Homo sapiens: one gene and its partner. The protein of the gene in region 1 interacts with the protein of each later gene in a biochemical or structural test. Each region holds a gene or a part of one and is shown in the gene's direction. Other genes may lie near its edges.

Region 1 (7,026 bases):
CATGTGTGTATATATGTATACATACACACATATGTGTGTATATATGTATATGTACACACATACACATATATATGTGTATATATATGTGTATATATATTAGTGGAAGTTTTCTTAAAAGTTTTATGTAAGTTTTCTTAGGAGAGAGATATATATATATCCCAAAAGATATATAGAGATGTATATCAGATATATCAAAAGGGTATTTGCTCTCTGTACTCCCATGTTTATTGCAGCACTATCCACAAGAGCTAAGATATGCAATCAATCTACCCATCAATGGATGAATGGATAAATAAAATATGGTTTATATATACAATGGAATGTTATTCCACCATAAAAAGAATGAAATCCCATCATTTGCAGCAGCTTGGATGGAACTGGAGATCATTATGTTATGTGAAATAGCCAAACACAGAAAGACAAATGTTGCATGTTCTTACTCATATGTGGGAGCTACAAAGGTGGATCTCATGAAGATAGAGAGTAGATTGGAGAATACCAGAGGCCAGGAAGGGTAGGAGGGAGTGGAGGATGAAGAGAGATTGATTAATAGGTACAAACATATGGTTTGATAGAAGAAATAAGATGTAGTGTTAGAAGGATCAGTAGGGTGACTATAGTTTACAACAATCTATTGTATATCTTGAAATAGCTAGGAGGGAAAAATTCCAATCGTTCTAGTATAAAGAAAAGACAAATATTTAAGATTATGGCAATCCCAAGTATACTTATCTTTACACATTATATCAGTGTATTAAATGATCATATTTACTCTGAAACTATATTATGCATAAATAAAAAATAAAATTTTCTTACAGATACAATTGAAGTCCCTTTTAAAATTCCTTGCTGATTCCATTCTCCTTCCTACCTCCTCAGAGGGAACCACACTATATCTACTTCCTATAGCAGATGTTGTTGGTTGCCTAGACAATATTCATGCCTTTATTTATAGAATCTCAATTTTCTTTAGCTATCTACTCTGCTTCTAGAGGACATGCTACTTAAGAGAGGCAGGTGCCAGCCACCAGCCCAGGAAGACTGATTGGTTTAAGCCAGTGATGGTGGTGTACCATTCCTCTTGCCAGAGTTTGGTTTAGGCATTGGCATGTGATACAGTTTTGACCAATGAGACACGAGGGAAAGTCTTCCAGGGACTTGTGGGAAAGATTTCCTCTCTCCTGAGGGAGGCACACAGAGGAAGAGTCCTTTCTTCCTTGGAACTTCGGTGTGTTGAGATGTGATGCCTGGAATGTTTTAACTTCTGGGGTCATGAAGGGAGTCAGATTGTGGAGAAAGCTGACATGTGGAGGATGGCAGAACAGAAGGATGATATGAATCTAGGCTCTTTGTTTCTACCGTTTGGCAACCGAATTAACACTGGAAACTCTCTAGTTCTGTGTTCATTATGCATTACAATAAATTCCTACTTGTGATTCATGCCAATTTGAGCCACAATTTTCGGTTACTTTTAGCTAAAAGCAGTCAAAATTATATATTTCTAGTCCAAGAAGTTGTACTTTTACTACATAGATGTTTTTATAATGATGTGTAATTGTTGTCTTCACACAAATGATCTTGTATCATACAAGTTGGTTTTTTAATTCAATGTTTAATTTTTGCCATGTTGATACAGTTTAAGCATTGTATAATTCATTGTATAAAAATATCACTATTCATGCGCTTATTGATGGACGTTTAGGTAAATTTTTTCCCTATTACAAATAGTTCTGCAATATCTATTCCATTAGACGATGCCACGTGCACATATGTGAGAGCTTCTCTAGGGCTGCACTATCCAGTGTGATAGCCACTGGTCACATGTAGCTATTTAAGTTAAAATTAAAAGTTCAGGTTTTTTGGCCAGGTGTGGTGGCTCATGCCTGTTATCCCAGCACTTTGGGAGTGGAGGCAGACAGATCACTTGAGGTCAGGAGTTTGAGACCAGCCTGGCCAACATGATAAAATTAGCTGGGAGTGGTGGCCTGTTCCTGTAGTCCCAGCTACTTGGGAGGCTGAGGGACGAGAATCGCTTGAACTTGGGAGGCAGAGGTTGCAATGAGCCAATATCACACCATTACACTCCAGCCTGGGCAACAAAGTGAGACTCCATCTCTAAAAAACAAAACAAAACAAAAACAAAAACAAAAAAGTCGCATTTTTGGTTGCATTAGCCACATTTTAAGTGCTCAATAGCTACATGTGGCTAGTAGTTATTGTACTGGATGATATACATATGGAAAGTTCCTGTCACTGTGGGAAGTTCTATTGGATAGTGCTGCTCCAGCACAGGGTTTCTGAATATTTTTCATAGGATGGCACCTGCAGAAAATGATAATATTTGTACAGCTCACTGGGATAAATAGATAAGGCTGCTCAAGTTTGGAGGAGACTGGTTCAGGGACTCTGGCTGCCCTAAGACCTTCTCAGTTGCCCTAAGGACTGAGGGATTGCTGATGTCTCATGTATCCCTGTAACTCACTTCCTGCCCATCAACATGCCTTGGCTCTGCTTTAGATGTATACCCAGGAGTGCTGTTGCTGGGTCATAGTGCATGCATGTTTCAATTTTATCAGATATTACCGTCTTATTTTCCAAAGTAGTTATTAACAGTTTATACTTACATAAGCAGTAAGTGCAAGTTCCTCTTTTCTTCTCCTTGGCAATACTTAATATTGGGAGATTTCTATATTTTTGCCAATCTGATGGGTGTGAGTTAATATACCATTATTTTAACTTGCATTTCCCTTATTTTGGGTGAGGTTGAACATTTTTTCACAAATGTAATTTCTTAGAATTTCCCGTGCATATCCTTAGTCTGTTTTGTATTATCTTGTTTATTACTTTAATTCATTTGAGGAATTATTTTTTCGGATGCTAACCCGTTTGCAAGTTATATGAAATGCCATGTATTTCGGCCTGTCGCTCATCTTTTAACTTTGCTTATGATATATGTTGTGGCACCAAAGTTTTAAACTTTAACATTGTCAAGATTATCAAACTTATTCTCTGTGGTTTGAGCTTTTATAGCTATATTAAGAAATCCTTTCTTATTCCAATGTCAAAAAGATAAGACTGTTGTATGTTCTTCTAAAAGTTTTCAAGTTTTACTTTTCACTTAGAGGAATTTAAACGGCTTTCATACCAATAATCAAGTTTTAAATTCTTAAAACTAGGCTGGGTGCAGCAGCTCACACCTGTAGTCCCAGCACTTTGGAGGCCAAGGCGGGTGGGTAGCTTGAGCTCAGGAGTTCGAAACCAGCCTGGGCAACATGGTAAAACCCTGTCTCTACAAAAAAATACAATAATTAGCCAGGTGTGGTGGTGTGCGCCTGTGGTCCCAGCTACTTGGAAAGCTGAGGTAGGAGGATCGATGCCTGGGAAGTCGCCTGGGAACTGAGATCGTGCCACTGCACTCCAGCCTGGGTGATAGAGACTCTGTCTCAAAACAAAAAACCCTCCAAAAACTTAAACGAAAAAAGATTTAATTCTGTCTCTGTCTTCCAGAATCCCCTACTTATATCTTTTTATAAATTTTTTACAGTAAATCAGTATGTATTGCCAAAATATATATATGGTCCTTTAAAAAATGAAAATTGATTTTTTTTGAGACAGTCTAACTCTATTGCCCAGGCTGGAGTGCGGTGGCACAATATTGGCTCACTGCAACCTCTGCCTCCCAGGTTCAAGTGATTCTTGAGCCTCAGCCTCCCCAGTAGCTGGGATTACAGGTGTATGCCACCATTCCTGGCTAATTTTTGTATTTTTTGTAGAGATGGGGTTTCCGCATGTTGGCCAGGCTGGTCTTAAACTCCTGACCTCAGGTGATCTGCCCACCTGAGCCTCCCAGAGTGCTGGGAGGTGTGAGCCACTGCGCCCAGCCAAAAATTGATATTTTGAAGAGTCTAAAATTTCCAGTTTTGCATATCTACTGGAAATGCAGTGTGAGTATTTTATTGTCTTTTTAACTTTTTAATGTACTCTGGGGTGGTAAAATGTTTGTCATCTTGTATATTTGTATTCTATCGATTCTCTAATTTGAATTATCAAGAGCAAAGGTCACTCTCCTTTCCCTCCACATGTTGTTACCTCAGTTGTCTCTGTCTTCCAGAATCCCCTACTTTGAAACTAGTGCTGCCAATGGGACAAACATAAGCCAAGCAATTGAGATGCTTCTGGACCTGATAATGAAGCGAATGGAACGGTGTGTGGACAAGTCCTGGATTCCTGAAGGAGTGGTGCGATCAAATGGTCATGCCTCTACGGATCAGTTAAGTGAAGAAAAGGAGAAAGGGGCATGTGGCTGTTGAGAAGTCAAGTAAGCGACATAGTAGTTCAGGTGGCCCATGCCTGGGATCTTCTCTATGATTGATACATGGCACAGTGAGAGATTAATGGGCATTGTGTACAAATTGCTTCTCACCATCCCCATTAGACCTACGAATAAAGCATCCGGTTCTAAAATTAATTTGTTGCAGCTTTGTAAATATTTCTTTAAGATTCAGCCTGAGAGTTAGGAGAAATATTTCAGAGCCAAAAGTGCCTTATACAACCTTAGCCTATTATAGTAAATCATTCAAGGATTCAGAATTTTGCAGTCACAGAAGAGTGTATTTATTATGTAGAATGAATGAGGGTACTGTCACCTGCCTTAATGTAGGTAGGCCCAGAGTCTTACATTTAAGATCTTACATGCAGTTATAAAACCGCCACAGTCTTCAATCCAGATTTGAAGACTCATGCCATAGGTGACATTCTAAAATACCATTAAAGCCACTTAAATGTTAAATAAGAATATACATGCACATCAGCTCAATGTCTTTGAGTATTAATTTTATGTAAGCATTCTATTTAACATGAATATAGGACAAATCATGGCTATATCTATAGACCTTGGATAAACTGGATTGACCAATTATACACTCACGGTGACTTTTTTATTGGTGGGAAGGGGATTGGGGTGGGGCAGGCTGGCTTAATGTAATATGAGCAACCAAAGTGGGACTTCTGTCTCCCCGCTATATTCCCATTGCTCTGAATGGTTGATTGAAGGGTCAGGGAACTAGATTTTATGGCTTTAGTTCACTGTGATTGTACATTTATACTTGGCCTATGTGCTGGCCGCACCTGAACATAGCTGGTGCTTATGCCGAGTTATTTGCGATGAGTAAATATTTAGTTTCTTTTTCTTCATATTTATAATGTTGATCTGGCATCCTCAGGCTGCAGCTTTATTAGCTTATAACTTACTCATCTCTATCTTTACCAGCAGGCTCTGTATTGTTGATATTTGCAACTTGTTTTGCTTTTCCATTGGTGGAATTGAAATAATTAGTTTTTAATTACATAAGATGCCTGTTTGCTATTTGGTGGAAGATAGATGTTCATATTGAAGCAGTCACATTTGTACTGTAGTTCAATAAAAGAAAAATGAAGTATTCTGTAGCCTATATTTTTCATAGAGCTCATGAGCATTTACTGTACTTGCTGGGTCTTGCCAAGATCATTTATTCCGCTGCATTGCCAAAGTGTCTTCATACCAAATTAAAGGTGGTTTTAATATATGTTTCATGGAAGTTGTTTATAAAATTCAAAGGTATTTCATTTAGGTGAAAAGTCTTATTTATTAAAGTGGTTTGAATAAAGTAGATCAAAACTTCCAGAGATCTTAATGGCTATATAGGAAGAAATATCACTCACCATAATTTAAATAAAGAATAAAAATACTTGTATTTTGTGGTGGCAAATGTTTGGTAGAACTGTAATTAGAAAAATACAAGTATATTTGCGTGATGGTTACACTAGAAGCCCAGACTTTACGACTACACAATATATTCATGTATCTAAACTGTACTTGTACCCCCTAAATTTATTTTTAAAAAAGGAAAAATAAAAGTATCATGAAAAAACCTATTTTTTTTTCCACTGTCCTTCCACTACTCCCATAACAAACTTATCCATGGTTGGTAAAATTTTACATATTTCTATCCTTGAAATGAAGGCTTCTTTTAAATTCCAAAGAAGTCATGGAGGCCTGTGCATTTGAATTGTATATGCTAGTGAGGAAAAGATTTAGACATTTCAAGAGCAGGGTTGGCCAGGCGCGGTGGCTCACACCTGTAATCCCAGCACTTTGGGAGGCCGAGGAGGGCGGATCACGAGGTCAGGAGATCGAGACCATCCTGGCTAACACAGTGAAACCCCATCTCTACTAAAAAAAAAAAAAAAAAAAAAATGGGCTGGGCGTGGTGGTGGGCACCTGTAGTCCCAGCTACTCAGGAGGCTGAGGCAGGAGAATGGCGTGAACCTGGGAGGCGGAGCTTGCAGTGAGCCGAGATTGCGCCACTGCACTCCAGCCTGGGCGACAGAGGAGACTCTGTCTCAAAAAAAAAAAAAAAAAAAAAGAGCAGGGTCATAATCACACAGCAGTGCCTTATATAGTTGCCATAAGACTTCAGTGCAGTACAACATAATTTTACAGCTACATATCAGGGCATATTCTATATGGTGTATTTGTGTTAGAATAACACATTAAATGTCTTTAAACATAAAAATAAGAATGTTTGCATGTTTCAGTTTTCAAGAACCAAATGAGTAATTAGCTATAGATTCCACTGGCCTTAAACATACAATTAAGTGTATACATGATATAGTGCACACACAAAAGCCACCTTTAATTATTGAAATAACCTGTATTCTTTTTGGAAATCATTTAAGTTTGGTATTGAAGTACTATATTTTTTGTGCATCAATGTATTTTTCTATTTACAAGCCTATGTAAAAGTGAAGTGTATCTTCAGTGAACCATGTGCCAATTAAGCTGTAATAAAAAAGTGGTCTAGTCTGTCAAATTTGTGTGTGAACGTAACTGTATTTATTATCACAAAGTTTCATACCAGAGGTTGTAATGCCAAAGGAAATGAAATTCAGGGATACACGTTCCATTAGGTGCTCACTGAGGGGCCAGCCAAGACAACATATTCTGGAAAAGTAATTAAAAATGTTATCAGGTTGGGCGCAGTGGCT
Region 2 (7,026 bases), 2.9 Mb from region 1:
GCACATTGTGCACATGTACCCTAAAACTTAAAGTTTAAAAAAAAAAAAGAAAATTTTAATATTAATACTCTTGGACAATAAGAGGACCTTAAAATCCTTTAACTCTAAAAAAAAAAAGGGTGATCAAAAATCATGTCTTTCGATTTGTCCAAAAAAACTCTATTGTTTTTGTTTGTGGGGATATGTTCATTAGTTGTTTGATAGACTTCAAATATTTCAAAACTATGTAGAATATTAATAATGACTATTAAGGGCTGCTTTAGTATGTGTCAGACAGCACTTACTGTATATGGTGTTATTTATGATCATTAATTCTTACAGCATCTCTGTGAGGTAGGAATTATAGTCCAGTTTTACAGATGAGGAAGCCAAGGCTCACTGGGGCTCATTGATTTACCCAAGTTCTCTTGGCCACAAGGAGCAGAGCTGGGATCCTGGGTCTGGCACCGCTGAGGGCCCATGACCCTAGCCAACTGCCCTCCATGCCTCCCATCCCTTTGCCAGGAGGGCAGCAGAGAAGGTGCCCAGCGGCACTTCCTGAGCACTGACAGGCAGATGATGGGAAACACAGAGATGAGCAAGGCCTAGTCCCTGAGAAGATGGGGCCAACAGACCAGAATCCCTCAGAGGGGTCGTTGACTGCATCCTATCAGTCCCCACTTTCGGACCAGTCATTAAGTAGGTGGTAAGGAGGCAGATGCTTGGCTGTAGGGAGAATCCTCAGAGTAAGCACTTGCCTTTATCACGTAGCATCAGGCAAACAACGTGTTAAACTGCAAAGTGACTGGAAGAAGTGCCGCCCATTCAGTTCCATTTTAACAGATACCACCAAAGATTCCCTTCTAACCTCTGACTGAAAACCATGGTGTGGGTACTACGAAATAGAGTAAAGAGAACTTTTTGTATGTATTCACTAGTCTCTGTAGAAATCGGTCTATTTCAAGATTATATATGTCCTTTGGGTGTAGTTTTTAAGAATAGGACTATAAAGAACTGAAGTTAAGAGATAATTTAGATAATTTAGTGTTTGACAGTAAACCTGCTGTTTCAGAAGTGAAACACTCTATTTTTTTTTTTTTTTTTTTTTTTTAGTTAAGTTCCTCCAATTTGCTTCATTGACATTGCTATTGGGAAGACTTAAATGCTAGGTTGCCAAGTTAAGGTATTGTTCAAAAGCTAGTAAGAACTGGAGGGGGTTATGATGGAAGCAAACAAACACACATCAGCATTTGAGAATGTCAGTCCTGGCATTAGTGGGGAAGCTCCTTGGACAGAGCAGAAAAGAGCATGAAGATGCTGATCAAATTGGAGATAGTTAAACTGAAGAGACAGGTTACTTCATGTGTATCATTAACTTTGCCTTATGACTCTAGGGCTTTATGAAGCACAACACATCTCGCCAGAATGAACACTGCCTCACCAATTTTGACCTGGCTGAGTATCGGCAGGTGCTGAGTGACTTGGCCATTCAGATCTACCAGCAGCTCGTGCGGGTGTTAGAGAACATCCTTCAGCCAATGATTGGTAAGGCCAGGGCCCCACTGGGCATTGCAGCCTGCCTATCATTCATGCCCATCGATAAGTAGCCACCAGTGGCACATGTTTCAGGGCAGGTATTCATTTGGGGAGCATAAAGTAGTAAGATACAGGGCTAAAATTAGCCGAGGAATCCCAGAAACCCAGCCATAGTTAACTGGGATACATCGAAATCACTGTTTCCACAAGACTGAAACAGTAGTATATGGTTTCCTTCCCTAATGTTTACTGTTTAAATTCAGTTGAATGCATTGAATTTTAAAAAATTGTCTTAAGTTACCAAACATTGTTATCTTCCAGCAAATTATCAGCAGGCTCCCTTTTTTTTTTTTTTGAGACAGAGTCTCGCTCTGTCGCCCAGGCTGGAGTGCAGTGGCGCGATCTCAGCTCACTGCAAGCTCTGCCTCCCGGGTTCACGCCATTCTCCTGCCTCAGCCTCCCGTGTAGCTGGGACTACAGGTGCCTGCCACCACGCCCAGTTAATTTTTTGCATTTTTAGTAGAGACGGGGTTTCACCGTGTTAGCCAGGATGGTCTCAATCTCCTGACCTTGTGAGCCACTCACCTCGGCCTCCCAAAGTGCTGGGATTACAGGTGTGAGCCCCTGCACCCAGCCTATCAGCAGGCTCTTAAGGCTACTTCCAGCTACACTTTCTTTCCCCATGCATGCATTTTCCATGTTTCCACAACTTCTTCATTTCCCTTCTGTGGGCTCATAGTGTTCCCTTTGCTTTCATAGGCCACAGTTAACTAGCTATTTGAGACATCAAAAGCTGAAGAAGCCATGGGAGATGGCAATGTTTTCTTCAGATGTCCCTTAAAACGTCATTAAAGCACCCTAGGTTGGCAAAAATTTAGGAGGTAACACAGATACCAAGGTCAACTTCAGCCAGTTTTTCTATTGCTTTGCCTGTTTCTATTGGCTGAATAAGAAGTTCGCCTCAAAGAAGCCCCAATCTAAATCCTTACCCCCATCTCCCAGTCATTTAACAGCAACAACAAACATGCCGGTTCTAGGGAATCTGTGTTTAGCACAATTAAATAGCAAGATGAACCAGACGTGGCCTTTGCTCTCAAGGGGCTTGCTGTCAGGGAGTGGACATCTCAGAAACATTCTAAGGGAGGCATAAGCCAAATGCTAAGAGAGCACAACAGGGAAGCAGCCGGGCCACAGGTGAGAAGACGAATTCTGGGAGATGGAGGTCAGCCCAAGGGCCCACTGCTGTTGTGGGAAACCCAGAATAAGGAAGGGCCCAGCTCTCCAGACCCATACCACTCCCCTCTCCCACGTTTTCTCCAAGATGGTTGTCAGTGCCCTGCTTTTCTTACTGTTTTTGCCTCTGGGGCTCAGATAACATGGAGAATGCTTATCTTAACCCGAACTGCTACCTACCACTCTCAAAAGCCCACCCAAGACACACACACTTGTTCTATCACAAGGCTACTGCTTCTTAACGCTTCTTATTTTAGAAAAGACACCATTAAGTTTACTTAGATTCATAGTAAATTTTTGCAATTAAGAATTATTCCTTCAGTAAAGTTTAAAATCCGGAAGCCCTTTTGTAGTGAAGTTCCTTTTCCCTCTATTTTGGCACCCAGATCATTTTTTTCTTTTTTGAAATGGAGTCTCTCTCTGTCACCCAGCCTGGAGCCCAGATATGTGGTCTCAGCTCACTGCAGCCTTTGCCTCCCAAGTTCAAGTGATTGTCCTGCCTCAGCCTTCTGAGTAGCTGGGATTACAGGCACACGCTACCACGCCTGGCTAATTTTTGTATTTTCAATAGAGACGGGGTTTCCTTATGTTGGCCAGGCTGGTCTTGAACTCCTGGCCTCCAGTGATCCACCCACCTCGGCGGCCTCCCAAAGTGCTGGGATTACAGATGTGAGCCACCGTGCCCAGCTAATTTTCCTAAGTTGAATGTGCATGTGTTTGTGCACATGGATATGTGCACATGAAAGGTTCCCTTCCACATCATCTCCTCTAACAATTGAAATACTCCTGCAGTCTCAGGCATGCTGGAACATGAAACGATTCAGGGCGTGTCTGGGGTGAAGCCCACAGGGTTGAGAAAGCGAACCTCCAGTATCGCCGATGAGGGCACCTACACACTGGACTCCATCCTCCGGCAGCTCAACTCCTTCCACTCGGTCATGTGTCAGCATGGCATGGACCCTGAACTGATCAAGCAGGTGGTCAAGCAGATGTTCTACATCATAGGGGCCATCACCCTGAACAACCTTCTCCTGCGGAAGGACATGTGCTCCTGGAGTAAAGGCATGCAGATCAGGTGAGCAAATGCCAACACCTGCGACAGTGTCTTTTTGCTGCCCAGCTGGCCTGCCAGGGTTGTGGAGAGCTGATGACTTGTTTTCAGTTCTTGCATCTCATGTCTGGTGCCATGTGGCCAAGCAGCAAGGGAGAAACTGGCACGGAGCCACTTTCCCTTGCCTGGCTGGATTTCACCACATCTCATTATTGCTCCCTGTCTGTACCCTGCCAACAGGTTCTTCACATTCTTGATAGGAAACCCTTTTCCACTGTGAAGCTTGCTTATTTGGGGGAGTGAAGAGATGATGCAAAAATACACAAAGATGAGATAGCTGCTTCCTCTCCTTATGTGTGTGTTTTAATTATACAATAAGAAATTATTAAATTATAATAATGAAGATTTCTAATGTTTGATTGCTCTTAGAAATATATTTTTGGAAAAATACCTTTTTGTACCTATGGCAACAAGAACAGGTCTGATAGATCTTTTACTAATTCTTAAAATATCCCCCCTCTATATTTTAAGAAAAGCTGCACTTAATTTTATGCCCAATACTCCTCAGCATAACCTCATTATTGTAACATAATTTTTTTGCAAATTTTTTTTTTTTTTTTTTTTTTTGAGATGGAGTTTTGCTCTTGTTGCCCAGGCTGGAGTGCAATGGCGCCATCTCGGCTCACTGCAACCTCTGCCTCCTGGGTTGAAGCAATTCTCCTGCCTCAGCCTCCCAAGTAGCTGGGATTACAGGCATGCACCACCACACCCAGCTAATTTTTGTATTTTTTGTAGAGACAGGGTTTCACCATGTTGGCCAGGATGGTCTCAAACTCCTGACCTCAGGTGATCCACCTGTCTCGGCCTCCCAAAATGCTGGGATTACAGGTGTGAGCCACCGTGCTGGGCCACAAATTTTTTATTTTAAAACAGCTAGAATATTCACCAAGAGGAGGGAAAAATGATTTCTCCTATCAAAGTCTTAGTAGTTACTCAATCTCAGGAACTGTTAGTGTTCTTTTCAAATTTTCCATCCTGACTTACATTGAAGTGTAGTGAATTTTAAGACAATAATGCCTTCCTCTCAGATAGTGGAGCATATTTCTCTATAAGCTCTGCATGGAAATGTGGAGCCACCTGTCGCAATATTATGCTGGCCCCTATTTGCCTGGTTGCTAAGTGCTGATTGTGTGTCTATTGACCTCAGTCTTAGGACTGCTGCCACTTGGTTGGCTATTTTGTGAAACCTACAATGTCTTTGTAGTTTGTCTCTGTCACCATTTGGAGTCTTTGTCTCTTCCAGTGGCCCTCCCTTGCCTCTCTCTCCTTTCATCCCGGAGCTTTCTCAGGCCACCATCTTCATCTCCTAGGCTCTTCCCTTAAGGCTTCAGCACAGGTATATGTGGGGCTTTTGGTTATTCAGTTACCTGATTTGGAGTTTGCCTTAAGAGAGAGTGCTTCAAGGATTATCAAGTCTCACCCTGCAACAGCAACCCAGCTCTGAAATTGTAAGAGAAGCTACAAAGTGTTTTCTGGCCAGCTCCCCAATAAAGACAGAGCTACATTATGTTATTCTATTTTGTTTATTAGCAAGTCTAATAACTTTTGCCATAATGACTTCATTTCCATCTTCCATTAAAGAGAATTACATTATCTTGTCATTTAGTCTTATATAATGGTGATTATAATCCTCATGACTATAATAAATTTTTAAGCACAGCTGATGAGATTTAAGAAAATTGAACAAAAATACTGCCTGTCATTTTAACATAAATCCTGACAAGGCCGCACACAAAAAAATTAAGACATTTTTGACAAAATTCAGCAAATTTGCATTCTCTGTATCTCTTTTTTTTCATAGGTACAATGTCAGTCAACTGGAAGAATGGCTGCGTGACAAGAATCTGATGAATAGTGGGGCTAAAGAAACCCTGGAACCTCTCATTCAGGCTGCTCAACTTTTGCAAGTGAAAAAGAAAACAGATGATGATGCAGAAGCCATTTGTTCTATGTGCAATGCTTTAACTACTGCCCAGGTAGAGCAACTTTCCCTGTTACAAAATAATTTAACATTCATCAAAGATGATCTTTAGGGAAGTAAAGAAGTCCTCTACTTATTGCTTGTATCTCTGAGCTGACTTCATCTGTGTTCAAGAAGATATATGCCTCTACCAATCTTAAAGCAAGGAGATTTTGCCAGAAATTAATACATTTCAGTGCTAATTACAGTATAAATATATTTAATATTCAGCAAATATTTATTGAGTACTTACAGTGTTCTATATAACATTGAAGGCACTGGGATACACCCATAGGCAAAACAAAGTCTCTGCTCTCATGGAGTATACAGTCTATGCAGCTTATATTCCATAAAATAGCTTTCTATCTTATTTGATAATTGAGTGGATTATCAAATAGTGACTTTGTTTTTAGAGACAGATAATTCTTGTTACTTCAACAGATGATTAATTAAGCCTCCATCTCAAGGCACCATATTTATTGCTGGGGAAGATGCTTCAATAAATAAGGAAAAATTCCTGCCTTCAAGGAGCTTACAGTTCAGTAGGGAAGACAGAGTCGTATCCAACTGACTCTACCGTAGAGGTTCTAGCAAATTCTGTAGTAAGATGCCTAAAGGAAGTACTGAGGGAAGATAGCAGTATTCAGGGAAGGTCCCATTAATCTGGGCATTGAATTTAAGGAAGTGGAAGAATGAGAAGGGCATTTGAGGATTATAGTGACAGCATGAAGCAAGGCACAGGCATGAACATGCCCAATTTTCTTTTGCCCGGTTATTTTCTGTGCTGACTCTTAGACTTTCTTTCTTTTTTTTTTTTTTTTTTTTTTTTTGTGACGGAGTCTCGCTGTGTCGCCCAGGTTGGAGTGCAGTGGTATGATCTCCACTCACTGCAAGCTCCCCCTCCCAGGTTCACGCCATTCTCCTGCCTCAGCCTCTGGAGTAGCTGGGACTACAGGCACCTGCCACCACGCCTGGCTAATTTTTTGTATTTTTAGTAAAGATGGGGTTTCACCATGTTAACCAGGATGGTCTCGATCTCCTGACCTCATGATCCACCCGCCTCAGCCTCCCAAAGTGTTGGGATTACAGGCGTGAGCCACAGTGCCCAGCCAACTTTCTTAATGTTCATCATATATCCTACAACATATGAAATTTTCAGTTTTGCCCAATACAATTAAAACTCAATCAGTTTGAGACCAGCCTGACC

Evidence for each region.
Region 2: the proteins of RAB27A (region 1) and MYO5A form a complex in vitro, tested with the Homo sapiens proteins (one study listed by BioGRID).

The regions. Positions count from the first base shown.
Region 1 is NC_000015.10:55,202,791-55,209,816, reverse strand, and holds the end of RAB27A (ras-related protein Rab-27A), read left to right. Parts: intron 1-4,111; coding exon 4,112-4,310; 3' UTR 4,311-6,851; downstream 6,852-7,026. UniProt on the Homo sapiens protein: Small GTPase which cycles between active GTP-bound and inactive GDP-bound states. In its active state, binds to a variety of effector proteins to regulate homeostasis of late endocytic pathway, including endosomal positioning, maturation and secretion.
Region 2 is NC_000015.10:52,315,857-52,322,882, reverse strand, and holds part of MYO5A (unconventional myosin-Va), read left to right. Parts: intron 1-1,373; coding exon 1,374-1,524; intron 1,525-3,540; coding exon 3,541-3,823; intron 3,824-5,660; coding exon 5,661-5,835; intron 5,836-7,026. UniProt on the Homo sapiens protein: Processive actin-based motor that can move in large steps approximating the 36-nm pseudo-repeat of the actin filament. Can hydrolyze ATP in the presence of actin, which is essential for its function as a motor protein. Involved in melanosome transport.